Regions from separate parts of the Homo sapiens genome. Here regions 2, 3 and 4 are each reported to be linked to region 1. The links are microRNA targets in miRTarBase. Many come from high-throughput screens and were not tested one by one. Region 1 holds a microRNA gene; each other region holds the end of a gene's coding sequence.

Evidence for each region. The annotated mature microRNA hsa-miR-4640-3p reads CACCCCCUGUUUCCUGGCCCAC and lies in region 1 at 1,134-1,155, opposite strand. An mRNA with a match to its seed (bases 2 to 7 or 8) in the 3' UTR can be bound and repressed. Matches are read on the target gene's strand: a 7mer-m8 pairs with bases 2 to 8, a 7mer-A1 pairs with bases 2 to 7 and ends in A, and an 8mer does both.
Region 2: miRTarBase lists ATP6AP2 as a target of hsa-miR-4640-3p. Seed matches in the 3' UTR shown: 7mer-m8 at 2,899-2,905.
Region 3: miRTarBase lists SMIM12 as a target of hsa-miR-4640-3p. The part of its 3' UTR that is shown has no 7-base or 8-base seed match.
Region 4: the mRNA of NAIF1 is a reported target of hsa-miR-4640-3p. Seed matches in the 3' UTR shown: 7mer-m8 at 2,401-2,407.

The regions. Positions count from the first base shown.
Region 1 is chr6:30,888,999-30,892,103 of GRCh38, reverse strand. It overlaps MIR4640 (microRNA 4640), which reads right to left and starts at 1,221; the gene lies at 1,132-1,221. DDR1 (discoidin domain receptor tyrosine kinase 1) reads right to left here. Exons shown (of 18, transcript NM_001297654.2): 3 at 3,094-3,105; 4 at 2,674-2,902; 5 at 984-1,131; 6 at 625-724; 7 at 1-102.
Region 2 is chrX:40,605,596-40,608,685 of GRCh38, reverse strand. It overlaps ATP6AP2 (ATPase H+ transporting accessory protein 2), which reads right to left. Exons shown (of 9, transcript NM_005765.3): 9 at 1,838-3,090. The coding sequence ends at 2,931. Among named protein-coding and RNA genes, the nearest start is that of MPC1L, 16 kb to the left of the region's middle.
Region 3 is chr1:34,852,954-34,856,058 of GRCh38, forward strand. SMIM12 (small integral membrane protein 12) reads right to left here. Exons shown (of 2, transcript NM_138428.6): 2 at 1-3,029. The coding sequence starts at 3,024. The coding sequence ends at 2,746. Among named protein-coding and RNA genes, the nearest start is that of SMIM12, 5.2 kb to the right of the region's middle. RefSeq lists enhancers at 44-273, 698-1,568.
Region 4 is chr9:128,060,790-128,063,892 of GRCh38, forward strand. NAIF1 (nuclear apoptosis inducing factor 1) reads right to left here. Exons shown (of 2, transcript NM_197956.4): 2 at 444-3,103. The coding sequence ends at 2,639. Among named protein-coding and RNA genes, the nearest start is that of NAIF1, 5.0 kb to the right of the region's middle.

The DNA.
Region 1 (3,105 bases):
ACATAGTCATAGCCTGGCCAGACCCGCAGCTCCTGACTCTTCCTAAAGTCATCCAGCCCCACCACACCATCTGCCAGCTGGCCCAGACCCCCATACTGCAGTCTGGAGAAGAGGGGACCAAGGAAGAGGAGGTTGGAAGGGAAGAGGGTCTTGACATCCAGGCATTCTGCTCCGCCACCCTCCGGCACAGTGGCATGGCCAGCCTGGCTCCCATCCACTAGTCCCATTCCCATCCCACCTCACACTCATGCAGCTGGCCCTTCTCCTCTCTCCACCCCACCCCAGCACTACAGGTACCTTGCAGGTCACATCCAGCACAAAGGCACCACCTCTAAGGGGCACCATTTCAATCTATGATGTGTATATTTATTGCAGCAATTTCCAACAATGTGTGTTAGCAAAGGGGTGCCTTTTTCATACAGTGTCATACGGGCTAGTGGTCACCCTAGTGCTACCCTTTGAGGCCCCACCTAACCCATCCCTCTTCTCAGCTCTTCCATCTCACTCCCCACCCTACTTACCAGCCCCCCTACACACACACACTCTCACACACACACACACACACACACACACACAGTCCTCCCTCCCACCCCAAACTCCATATCCTGCAGGGGCCTTTCTTACCCGCCCACGGTATGTCCGTCATAGGTGGAGTCGTTGAGGTACACGGCCTCAGATAAATACATTGTCTGCCCCACAGGGGCGGTGTAAGACAGGAGTCCATCTGGGGCAGGGTGAGAGGATGGGGGTCAGAGGCACTAAGGCTCCATCCCCCATCCCTGCATCAGGCCTGGGCAGGTTTCAGGTCCCTTCTTGTATCTCTCCACTGGCTCATTGGCATGGAGGAGACAATGCTGGCTAGCCCCCTCCTCAGAGTGACAGCTTCCCAGCAGGAGAAGGGATCCTGGATGCCCATTCTCCACACTCCCCACCCTCCAGTCCCCTGCTCAGGAAACAGATTCCCAGGAAGCTGAGCCACTCACCCCTCCAGAGGCAGCCATAGAGCTCTACCCGCAGACAGACGCTCATGACCCGGTCAGCCCGGGGGTAGAAGCGAACCAGTCGGGCAACCATGGGGGGCCCAAGGTCCTTCAGCACCACTCCCTCAGGGTCCTCATTGCCTGAGATCACCTGTGGGCCAGGAAACAGGGGGTGGGTGGGATGGAGTCCAGGTCAGATCTTACTTCCCACCCACCAGCTGCTCCCTGGCCCAGCCCACAGTGGCCACTTAGAGACCCATGAGGGGTGGCACCGAGCACACAGCACTGTGGGGCGCAGCCAGGCATGGGTGAAATGAAGATCTGCAGCTGAGACCTCTGGCTCTGTCGCAGCTCTGATGTTCCATCCTCAGACTTCAGGCTCAGCTGCCCTCTTCTCCTTGCCTGGCTCCATCCATTTGTCTCCAAGCCTATCATCCCATTGTGCCCAGATTCTCCCCAATCCTCACAGCCCTGCACCCCTGCCTCAGCTTCCCCTTCATTTCAGCCCATTCCCTCTGTTCATTCAGCAGAAGTTGGCTGAGTGCCCGCTCTGTGCCAGGCGCGTTCTCAGTGGTGAACGTCACTCCCCACCCTTGTAGGACTGAGATCCCAGCAGGGAAAACAGCTGCGAAGAACAAGAGGCAGGAAGTATGGACAGAGCAGTGAGGTGGGTGGCCAGAAAAGGCTCTCTAAGGAGGTGACACCTGGCAGAGAACTGAATGGAGTGAGGGAGAGCCTGTGGTTATTTAGGGGAGGAGCTTTGCAGGCACAGAGAAAATGTCCAGAAGCTGTGGGAACGAGCCCTGGCTTGTTCCAGCAACAAGAAGAAAGGCAGCGTGGCCAAGGAGGCGCCAAGAAACAAGTGATGCAGGCAGGAGCCAGGTCAGGCTGAGCATCCTGCACCAGCTAGGGACTCAGCTTTTGTTCTGGCAGAGTGGAAAGCCAGCATGGGGGTGTCAGCTAGGTGTGACGTATCTGATTTACATGCTCTAAGGTCCACTGGATGCCGCCCCCCCAGGTGGAGATTTGACTCCAGGCAGAAAAGGGCAGAAGCAGGGAGACGCGTTTGGCATCTACTGCACTCATCTAAGCTGGAGATGGCGGGCAGGTGGCCTAGGGCAGTAGAGGTGGAGTGGTGAGGAGTGACTGGACTCAGGAACACTATGGAGGTAGAACAGACGGGGCTGCTGATGCTTTGGAAGGAGGTGAGAGAAAAAAAGGAATCAAGGATATCATCTTAACTTATAGCCTAGGCAACCAGGCAATGGTGATACCACTTCCTGAGCTGGAGAATGCCAGGGGAGGAGCAGGTTTAGGCTGGGAATGGGAATCAAATTCAGCTTGGGAAGTTAAACGTACGTTTGAGATGCCTATTAGACATCTAGGTGGCTGGCTACAGTGCTTGTAATCCCAGCACTTTGGGAGGCTAAGGTGGGAGGATCACTGAGCCCAGGAGTTCAAGACCAGCCTGGGCAACACAGCAAGACCCCATCTATTAGAAAAAAAAAAAAAGACATCTAAGTGGAGAAATCCAAAAGGTGGCCAGGTTTACAATATTGTTTGGAGCTCAGCTGAGAGGCTTAGTCTGGAGATGATATAAACTGGAGAGTCGTCAGCGTATAGGTGGTGTTTAAAGTACAGCTGGAAGTGAGGAGAGCCAACCTCCTCTGGGTGCTGCCCCTGCCAGTCTCACCTCCTGACCCCAGCGGTCCTTCCAGCCCATCCAGCGGCGACCATCCCGGGAGTAACGCAGCCGGTAGCTCCGGGAGAACTCCTTGCCCAGGCCCCCGGCATGCCGTCCCTGGGTGCCCACCAGAGCCACCAGGTGCAGTCGTTGTAGATCCACCTGCAAGTACTCCTCCTCCTTGGGAAACACCGACCCTGCGGGGCACCAGGCCCCATCCCCGTCACTGCTCTCCAACCTGAGGGTGAAGAGGGGCACAGAGAACATCTGGCCCCAGGTCTGCCTCCATCTCCAGTATTTAAACCCCACTTCATTTGCCCCCTCAGCCTGCAGGGGTTTCACTGGCATGGGCAGAGGGGTTGGAGGGGAAGTAGAGGTCCCAGGAGCTCCTCTCGGGGCAGCTACAAGTGTGCCAGGTGTGCCAAGTACCTGCTGTGGCGG
Region 2 (3,090 bases), not on the chromosome of region 1:
GGTGAAACCCTGTCTCTACCAAAAATACAAAAATTAGCTAGGCATCGTGGCAGGTTCCTGTAATCCCAGCTACTTGGGAGGCTGAGGCAGGAGAATCACTTGAACCTGGGAGGCAGAGGTTGCAGTGAGCCGAGATTGTGCCACTGCACTCCAGCCTGGCTGACAGAGCAAGACTCCGTCCCCCTAACAAAGTTAAGTTTAGGCTGGGCGCGCAGTGGCTCGTGCCTGTAATCCCAACACTTTGGGAGGCTGACGCTGGAGGATTGCTTGAGCCCAGGAGTTCAAGACTAGCCTGGGCAACATAGAGAGACCCCATCTCTACAAGAAATAAGCCAGGCGTGGTGGTACATGCCTGTGGTCCCATCTACTTGGGAGGCTGAGGTGGGTGGATAGTTTGAGCCCAGGAGGTTGATGCTGTAGAGCTGTGATTGCACTACTGCACTCCAGCCGGGGAAACAGAGTGAGATACAGTCTCAAAAAAAAAAAAAAAGTAAGTTTACAGTTTCCATATTACTTGGTATCAATGAAAATGGATTCAGATTATTCCTTCAAAAAAACACATAACCAAAGAAAATAAAAATCAATTCTATATTATTCCTAATAGAATTAGGCCATAAGCAATATCTACATATGCAGAATCTCAGATATTTTATAAACCTAGAATAGTCCACCAATGAGATGTAAAGTGATTGGGTTTTCTCTTTGTCAGTGGAATCGTCTGCCATGAGTCTGCCTTTTCTGCCTCTCACACAAATCGACACTGTGATTTATGTTCCTGAGCAAATTAGACTTAATTTAAGAGCAAATCATCAGCAACAGGTATAATAATCTTGGCAGAACATTTATTTTAATGAATTGCTCTCTGCCTAACATAGATAGAAGGATGCTGATGCCATTTACCCTATATGGATTAGTGCTGTCATGTAATTAATTTTTTTTTCTTCCCCTAGAACTTAAAGTCTCATCAGTTTTAAATTAAAAAGGCATTGGTTTATTTCATATTTAATCATAACAATCTAACTTCTCCGGCAATGTTTATATAAGAAAGTTGTGAAAGACAAATGGATTCTAACCACCCTGACGCATGATAGGTTCCTGCTCCCTACACTTAGGCAGTGTTGCGTTCCATGGGGTCAGAGTGGGAACTGTTTTGGTGATAAACAGCTGAAAACCCTCACCCCCATCACTCTGGCAGGAAGTAGGGATGGAAGAGTGATTTTAGAACAATGTAGTTTTTCTTCCCTGTGAAGCTGAGTATCAGTTTCCCTATTATTTATACTTCAATGAGAGGCAAAAAGAAAACCAACATTTCCTTCACTCTATGGGGGTTTGAAACTGTAATTGTCAAGGGCATCTTGCAGTAATTGACAACTAAATAAACCCTACCTTCTCAAACCTGCCAAACTCAATGCTATGTATAAATAATTTGATGATCTTTGCAAAGAAGATGCAGAAACAGCTAATACTAAATACAAGGAAGGATCCCAGGGTCAGGGCTACAATGCTCATACTAAAATAATCTTGCTATATAATAATGAAGTTAAAGATCCTGTTTTTTGAAAAAGAAAACAAATTGTTACCTTAAACCTTTACCTGAGACAGTCCTTCATATTCTAACCAATTAGTTGCTTATTCATCTTTAAAAATGCTACAGGGCCGGGTGCAGTGGTGCACACCTGTAATCCCAGCTACTGGGGAGGCTGAGGTAGGAGGATCACTGGAGGCCAGGAGTTCAGCCTGGCAACCTAGCAAGACTGGTCTCTAAAATGTTTTTAATTTAAAAAAAAAAAAGCTATAGAAAAATGTAACCCTTTCCTACATAAAGTATGCATTTCTCATATATCCTATATAAATTCAGTAACAAGAATGGTAATTAAAATGCCTTCCTTACATTAGTACTAAATCTCAGGAGGCAGCGAGAATAAACAAGTGTAAAAGAAACACCATGAAATTATCTGTACAACAAAACAGCCAATCCTGATGAAAGAAAAGCCTGTTTTGTTAGGTTTTTACAATATAAAATAGATTTAGTACTGCAATGACACAAATTTGGAATCATCATTAACTTTATTTGTCACTCTTGATAGACATTGGTCCACTCCAACATAAAAAGTAGAATTCACCCACTTCCACTTAATATTCTATAGAATGAAGTTGTACCACAAACCATAGTAACTTACACAGGGGGAAAAGTTACTGAAATAAAAATGTTTTATATTCATGCCTCAAAATGTCCCTCAGGGATTTTTGTGTGTATAATGAAAAGCATCTATATACTCCACAAGGCTAGTTTCTTCTTAGATCAATGTAGTATTTTTAGTATCCATATTAGCCCATGTAGGTCAACAAACTTGCAGAAGAGGGTTAAAAAACAGCTGTCCTCTGTTACTCAGATACAGTTCCAAAACTAAGCGATTATATAAGCACATCCATATTTTAGGGCTACTCTAAGTTAAAAACCTTTTCTCTTGTTTCAGAGTTATTTACATCAAATTAAGACATTTACAAATTGTTCATAGTATACAATAGCCCAAATATGATTTTCACCTATGCTGTGTAAAGAAGTTAAGCATTCGTAAGTTTGTCTAATAAATTCAGTGCACTTTTTTCCATAACACGAGCTATTCTAAATGTTTTACATTTCTTTCAGTGCATATTTCCAAATTCATTAAACAGAATGAAATCAATGTTATTAAATGGCTATATCATAATATTCAAGCATATTATGGAATCTATACCACAGTGGGATTCACGTCAATACTATAATTCACTCTAGAAAAACATCACAGGCACACACAAAATAAAGAACAAAATTTGATTTTTTTTTATAAATGTAAAGTATACTATCTACTTTAAAGCACACTAAAAGATATATTTTAACAAAACAGCCAATTTCCAACCCCCTTTTCTAATTCTGGCACAGGTAACATTCAATCCATTCGAATCTTCTGGTTTGTCATCCTATAAATGATGCTATCATATCCAGGATCCATGTTCCAAATATTGTAAGAGGTGATAATCACAGCCAAGGCCAAGGCGATCATTATCCAAAGTACCATGTTGAAAACCACGGAATATTCAAAATTATAC
Region 3 (3,105 bases), not on the chromosome of region 1:
AGCCAGAACCAGAAATCTCCTTACTTGGTAGCTGACAGTCTCTTCCCAAGTTCCATCCGATTTGTTCCCTGGGAAGCAACAGCAGCTCATTTCCGCATTCCCACTAGGCCTCAGGGAGCCTTAGAAGAAGCCAACGACTCAACCTGCTCCCTCCTCTCAGGCCACCACCAGGTCCTGGAAGGCACCTCCAGCTGGCACCTCTTCACAGCTGGCCCCTCTAACTGTTCAGGAACTCCACCCTCACCCACCTGTGGACACCATCAGGCCTCACGAGAGAGAACCTAAGAAGCAGGGCCAATACCCACTCCCTTTTAGAGGCAGATCAATTCATCAAATGCTCACTACTGCCCTGTGCTGACTTTAGTTAAACATCAGTAGGCTTCAAGAGGCAACAGCTTCTTATGCTTCTTCCTGCTCTCTGCTTTTACTCCCCTCACAGCCTTACCAGCAACGTCTTCAGTGGTAAGATTTAGTAGAAACTCCTAGAGCCCTTTTGGAAAGACATTTGGTGTTATGCATGAGATCCTCAAAACTGCTCATTTATCCCATTTCATCCAAAATGACATTTACTATTTTTACTGTTTATTCCAAAACGCAGGAAAAGCTTCATATAAGATATTCGTTGCAGTATCTAAACGAGTGACCAACCAGAAACAATTCAAATGTCCAGCAATATGGAAATTGTCCAGGATAAACTTATGTCATACTCCCACTTGATAGACAATTATGTTGCTATTATAAACAACTACAGCCAGGCACGGTGGCTCACGCCTGTAATCCCAGCACTTTAGGAGGCCAAGGCAGGCAGATCACAAGGTCAGAAGTTTGAGACCAGCCTGACCAACATGGTGAAACCCTGTCTCTACTAAAAATACAAAAATTAGCCAGGCGTAGCGGCGCACACCTGTAATCCCAGCTACTCAGGAGGCTGAGGCAGGAGAATCGCTTGAACCCAAGAGGTGGAGGTTGCAGTGAACCAAGATCGCGCCACTGCACTCCAGCCTGGGCAATACAGCGAGACTCCATATTTAAAACAACAACAACAACAACAACAAAAAAAAACTACAGACTGCCAGGCACGGTGCCTCACACCTGTAATCCCAGCACTTTGGGAGGCCGAGGCAGATGGGATCGCTTGAGGTCAGGAGTTCGAGACCAGCCTGGCCAAGATGGTGAAACCCCTGTCTTTACTAAAAACACAAAAACTAGCCAGGCACGATGGCGCACGCCTGTAATCCCAGCTACTTAGGAAGCTGAGGTAGGAGAATCGCTTGAACCCAGGAGGCAGAAGTTGCAGTCAGCCAAGATCACGCCACTGCACTCCAGCCCGGGTGACAGAATGAGAGTCCATCTCCAAAAAAAAAGAAAAAAGAAACTACAGGCCAAGGCCGGAGGATCACTTGAGCCCAGGAGTTTGAGACTAGCCTGGGCAACATAGTGAGACCTGGTTCTACAAAAAAATAAAAAAATTAGCTGGGCATGGTGGCATACTCCTGTAGTCCCATCTACTTGAGGAGCTGAAGTGAGAGGATCACTTGAGCCCAGGAGGTCAAGGTTGCACTGAGCCGTAATTGTACTGCACTCCAGCCTGTGTGACAGAGTGAGACCCTGTCTCCAAAAAACCAATTATGATGACCATGTAAAATGGGAAAATGATAATAGTGAGAAAAGTATATAAAATTAAATGTACAGTAATGATAACTATCTCTAAAACCTATGCAGAGAATTAGTAAAAGACAACAAAATGTTAACGGTTGTTATTAACGAGCTGGGAACATGGGTGACCTTTTTAAAATCCCTACCAAATTTTCTTGAATGTGCGTATATACTTTTATAGGGAAAGGCGTCTATGTGTGTGTATGTGAGGTCTACCTCCATTTAGACTTGAAGGTGCTGCAGCCAATTGTAATAATGGTAAAAAGGTTCCTGGGAATCTGTGCCTCCAGGGTTCAGTGCAACCGCACTAGTAAAGCAGTTTCCAGGGCTCCTTGGCACCCTTTAATACCAATGTTATCCTGCTCTAAAATGCCTGTACTTGCCTAACTCCTAAGAAGACCCCCAAATACCACCTGGATGATAAGATTCGATCATTATGGTTCTCAGATACCACTTTAATCAGGTTTTTCACTATACAGTGATGGGGGTAGAAGATGGTGACTGTTTTCAAGCAAATTCACGAGGCACATGTTCGTCCCTGCCCCAAAGTGAACAGTCTGGGCTTCCCAGAACAGAAAAGTGCTTTCCTTCCTGGGGGAATCCCATTCCTGAGCTGACAAGACAGATTTCAGTAAGAATGAGCACAAAGGATAGGGCAAAATAGTGAAGGGAGCCAGGTGCATATTTGAATTCTTTCCAGTGCAGACTGGAACTAGACATGCAGGTATCCCTCCTAAAGGCAACGCCCAAATCCCAGCCATTCCCACTAGAGGCCAAACCGCCTGCCCACAGAGATTGACAGCCAATGTTCATCTCATAACTCTCCTCCCAGCAGTGCACCAGTAAACTCAGATGCCTGAGTGCTTGTGGCCACCACACAACAGATGCGGCCTTCCTCTTCACTGGCCCCTCGGCTGCTGCTGGGTCTGCCTGGCCATCAAGGAGCAGCCAGTATTTGTGTGGCTGTGTGGTGTGGGAAGGGCCAGAATAAGCAACAAAGCCAATTAGATGTGGGTTCTGGGGCTCTGTCAACATGGTAGCAGGACAAGTCACCACCCACAGTAGGACCATAGGGCCCTGTGTCCTCCATTAATTCTTCTCTGGGCGGTTTCTGTTCAGCACAGCTTTCGGGGCAAATTCTAGCTTGTCCTTAAGGCTCACCACCTGCGTGTGGTCCTTGCCTAGAAGCTCATCCAGCTTGCGATCCTCCCGGCGCTCTGAGATGCTCTTTTCCTCCTCCACGGGCTGGGGGTCCTTTCCCCTGATGAACCATTCCAGGTGGTAACCCACAGCCCCGACCACGAAGGCAACAGGGAATGTGACATAAGGAGCATAGGTACGAACCACGGTCCAAAACACAGGCCACATGACATCTGCGGAAAAGCACAAGGCAGCATTAGAGAACCCAGCATCATCTCCCACCAAATAAGAGCAACCCACTAGAGCTCT
Region 4 (3,103 bases), not on the chromosome of region 1:
TTTGTGTATTTTTAGTAGAGACGGGGTTTCACCATGTTGGTCAGGCTGGTCTCGAACTCCTGACCTCGTGATCTGCCCACCTCGGCCTCCCAAAGTGCTGGGATTACAGGCATGAGCCACAGTGCCTGGCCTGCCTCAGGTAATTCTTAAGAGTCCCAAACACTGCCTTAAACCAGGAATAGACTGACTTCTACTGTAAATGGGTCAGAGAGTAAACACTTTTGGCTTTGTGGGCCAGATGTCTCTGTAACTACTCAACTCTTGCTTTGGTGGTACAAAAAAAAAAAAAAAAAAAGCCACAGGTTCATAAATGAATGGGTGTGGCTGTGTTCCAATACAATTTTATTTATAAAAATAGGTGGTGAGCCTGATTTGAGTTTGTGGGCCATCGTCTGCCAGTCCCTGGTTCTCTTCTATATATAAGCAATAAAGACACAGAGATGTGTGTATAAAAAAGTGATATGTCTTTAATTTAAAATTATGACCCGGAAATAACTAGTCAGTTTAAGTGATCCAGACTTCCTCTTCATACCCAAATGGAACAGACACAATATTGGCTCAGATTTCCAACCCCAGAAAAAAACCAAACCAAGTCCTCAGGAAGTCCCTGCAGCGACCTTGCTGGGGCCATCAGACCGCACAGAGTGGAGGTGCCCAAGCTGCTAGGCTGCTCTTAATCCAGCCACACTGAGAAGAGCTTTCCTTCTACCAGCAACTCCCTCGCTGGGTCCGATATCCCCCTTCACCTCCCTTTTAGCTGGCACTGCACGAATGCCTCCACAGAGAGGCTGACAGTACAGCAGTCACCTCCCAGCTGTCTTCGGTGCATCTTCAGGGCCACCTTCCTGTGGTCACAATAGAGGAGTTGAGCATTCTAAACGTTCGTGCCCAGGAGGGCAGCGTCTTCTCTTTTTAGCTGAGGTCTGGAGCCCTGAGTTGTAACCATTGGTCATATGTGGCTGAGGCACCGACAGCAAATCGCCAAACTTGGGAAACGATCTGGGGAGATGCAAGGGCCTTGGTAATTGATGGTGAGTCTGAAAATGAAACAGACAAATGGCATCTGGGTAAAATCCTTACAGACATCTCAGAAGAGAAAGTGTAAAGATGGAACAGGGAACAGCACCTCCTTCAGCACTCCAAGGCTCTGCCTGCTCTTCCCTGAGCATAGAATCCAAAGGGTCCCATTTGTTTTTTTGGTTTTTTCTTTGTTTTTTTTTTGAGACAGAGTCTCGCTCTGTCGCCAGGCTGGAGTGCAGCGGTGCAATCTCGGCTCACTGCAATCTCCGCCTCCTGGGTTCAAGCGATTCTCCTGCCTCAGCCTCCCGGGTAGCTGGGACTACAGGCGTGTGCCACCACGCCCAGCTAATTTTTGTGTTTTTAGTAGAGACGGGGTTTCATCATGTTGGCCAGGATGGTCTTGATCTCTTGACCTCGTGATCCACCCGCCTCGGCCTCCCAAAGCGCTGGGATTACAGACTTGAGCCACCTCGCCCGGCCAGGGTCCCACTTCTTAGGTCAGCTTCGCCTTTTCCTCCTCCTACGTTCAGGGTCAATTATGGCTTTGGATTCACTCAGCTACTCAGAGGGAGTCTCAAGAGAACAGAAGGCACTGAGCGGTGTGGCAGGGGAAGAGTCCAGCATGTGATGCTCAGCAGGGCTTTTTTTGCACTGAATTTTGGAAATGTGGAGTCAGCAGAGAGGAAAGGAGGATGGGTGTGGCCACAGGGCAGCCTTCCTGGAGGCCTTCCTAGGAGGGGTTCACACACAGAATAAATACAACTGGCTGGATGCAAGCCTCCGCACAAAGCCAACAGGTCACTCAGACCCACTGCAGTGGGGCAGCAAGCTTCCACACTAGTTGGCTTTCTCAAAAATTTACAGCATCCAAAGCTTGACCTGAGTCAAAAGCTCTAGGGACAAACCACCAAAGGGCTGCCCAGAGATGCTGTTGAAAACCAGAGAGTGGCCAAACCGTCCCCACCATACACAGCATTCCTGAGCCAGACTGGCTGCACACTGCATGTATTACGGAGGCGTCCCAGCACACTACCTAACAAGGGCCTGCGCTGTGCCTGGGGTGGGGTCGGGGGAGAGCACAACAGTCATTGGAGTCCCCTGAGAACTGAGGCACAGTGAGGAGAAAAGGGTGGGGTTTCCTCCTCAGTCACACTACCTCCCAAAGGAGGAAGATATTATTGCTCAACTGCCAGCATCAGTGACATTACCCTACTCGAAAGGATGGCACCTGGGGTTGGGCAGCTCAGTAGAGACCCAGGCTGGGTGACGGCCCCCAGTGACAGCCCGTTGTGTTGTTCCTTACAGTTGTCCAAGACCAAGGCTGGGTCATGTCACAAGCCCGGGGTCATGACAACACATGTCCCATCACATGCACACGTGACCCCCTGCTAACCAATCTTCTGGATCTTAGCAAGGCAGCTCAAGTAGGGGGAGTATGAGTTTGGGTCCCAGGAGCCCAACAAATTCCTCTTCTCAAAAACAGTGCAACCCCTAAGCGTTTATTAAAGAGGGAGCTGTGCACGTGGCCGGTCTAAGGCCAAGGCCAATCACAGGACCCACTTACAAGTCCATGGAGTTTTCATCCCATCATGGCAGAAGGCTGGCCTGACCCCTGCCCTCACTGGATGATGCTGTCTGGCTGCCCATTCTGGGCCACCTGCCCAGGGTCAGAGGCGGGGGCCGGGTTAGCTGTGTTGCTCTGCAGGTAGCGGCGGAAATCTTTGATCATAGGCCGGAGGACCTGGATGAGGACGCTCAGGGCAGCCTGTGTGCCCTCCATGGCCTGGGCCTGGCGCTCCTGGGCACAGGCCTGCACTTCCTGGGAGCGGCGGATCATCTGCAGTAGGTCGTTCTGCTGTTCCAGGTGCTGTGCGATCTCCTTCACATGCAGGTTGGTGACCCGCTGCTCCTGTATCAGCTTGGCGGAGTTGAGAGCAATGCGGCTCTTGAGCGCTTGCGGCTTGACCGACGTGTCTGCATGCTGGGCCATCATGTCCACAGGGGTCTCTGGTGGCAGAGGTGGGGGCGCCTCAGCCGTGCAGTACTCCACCACGCCCTCCTCCAGCGTGTGATAGGTGGTCTC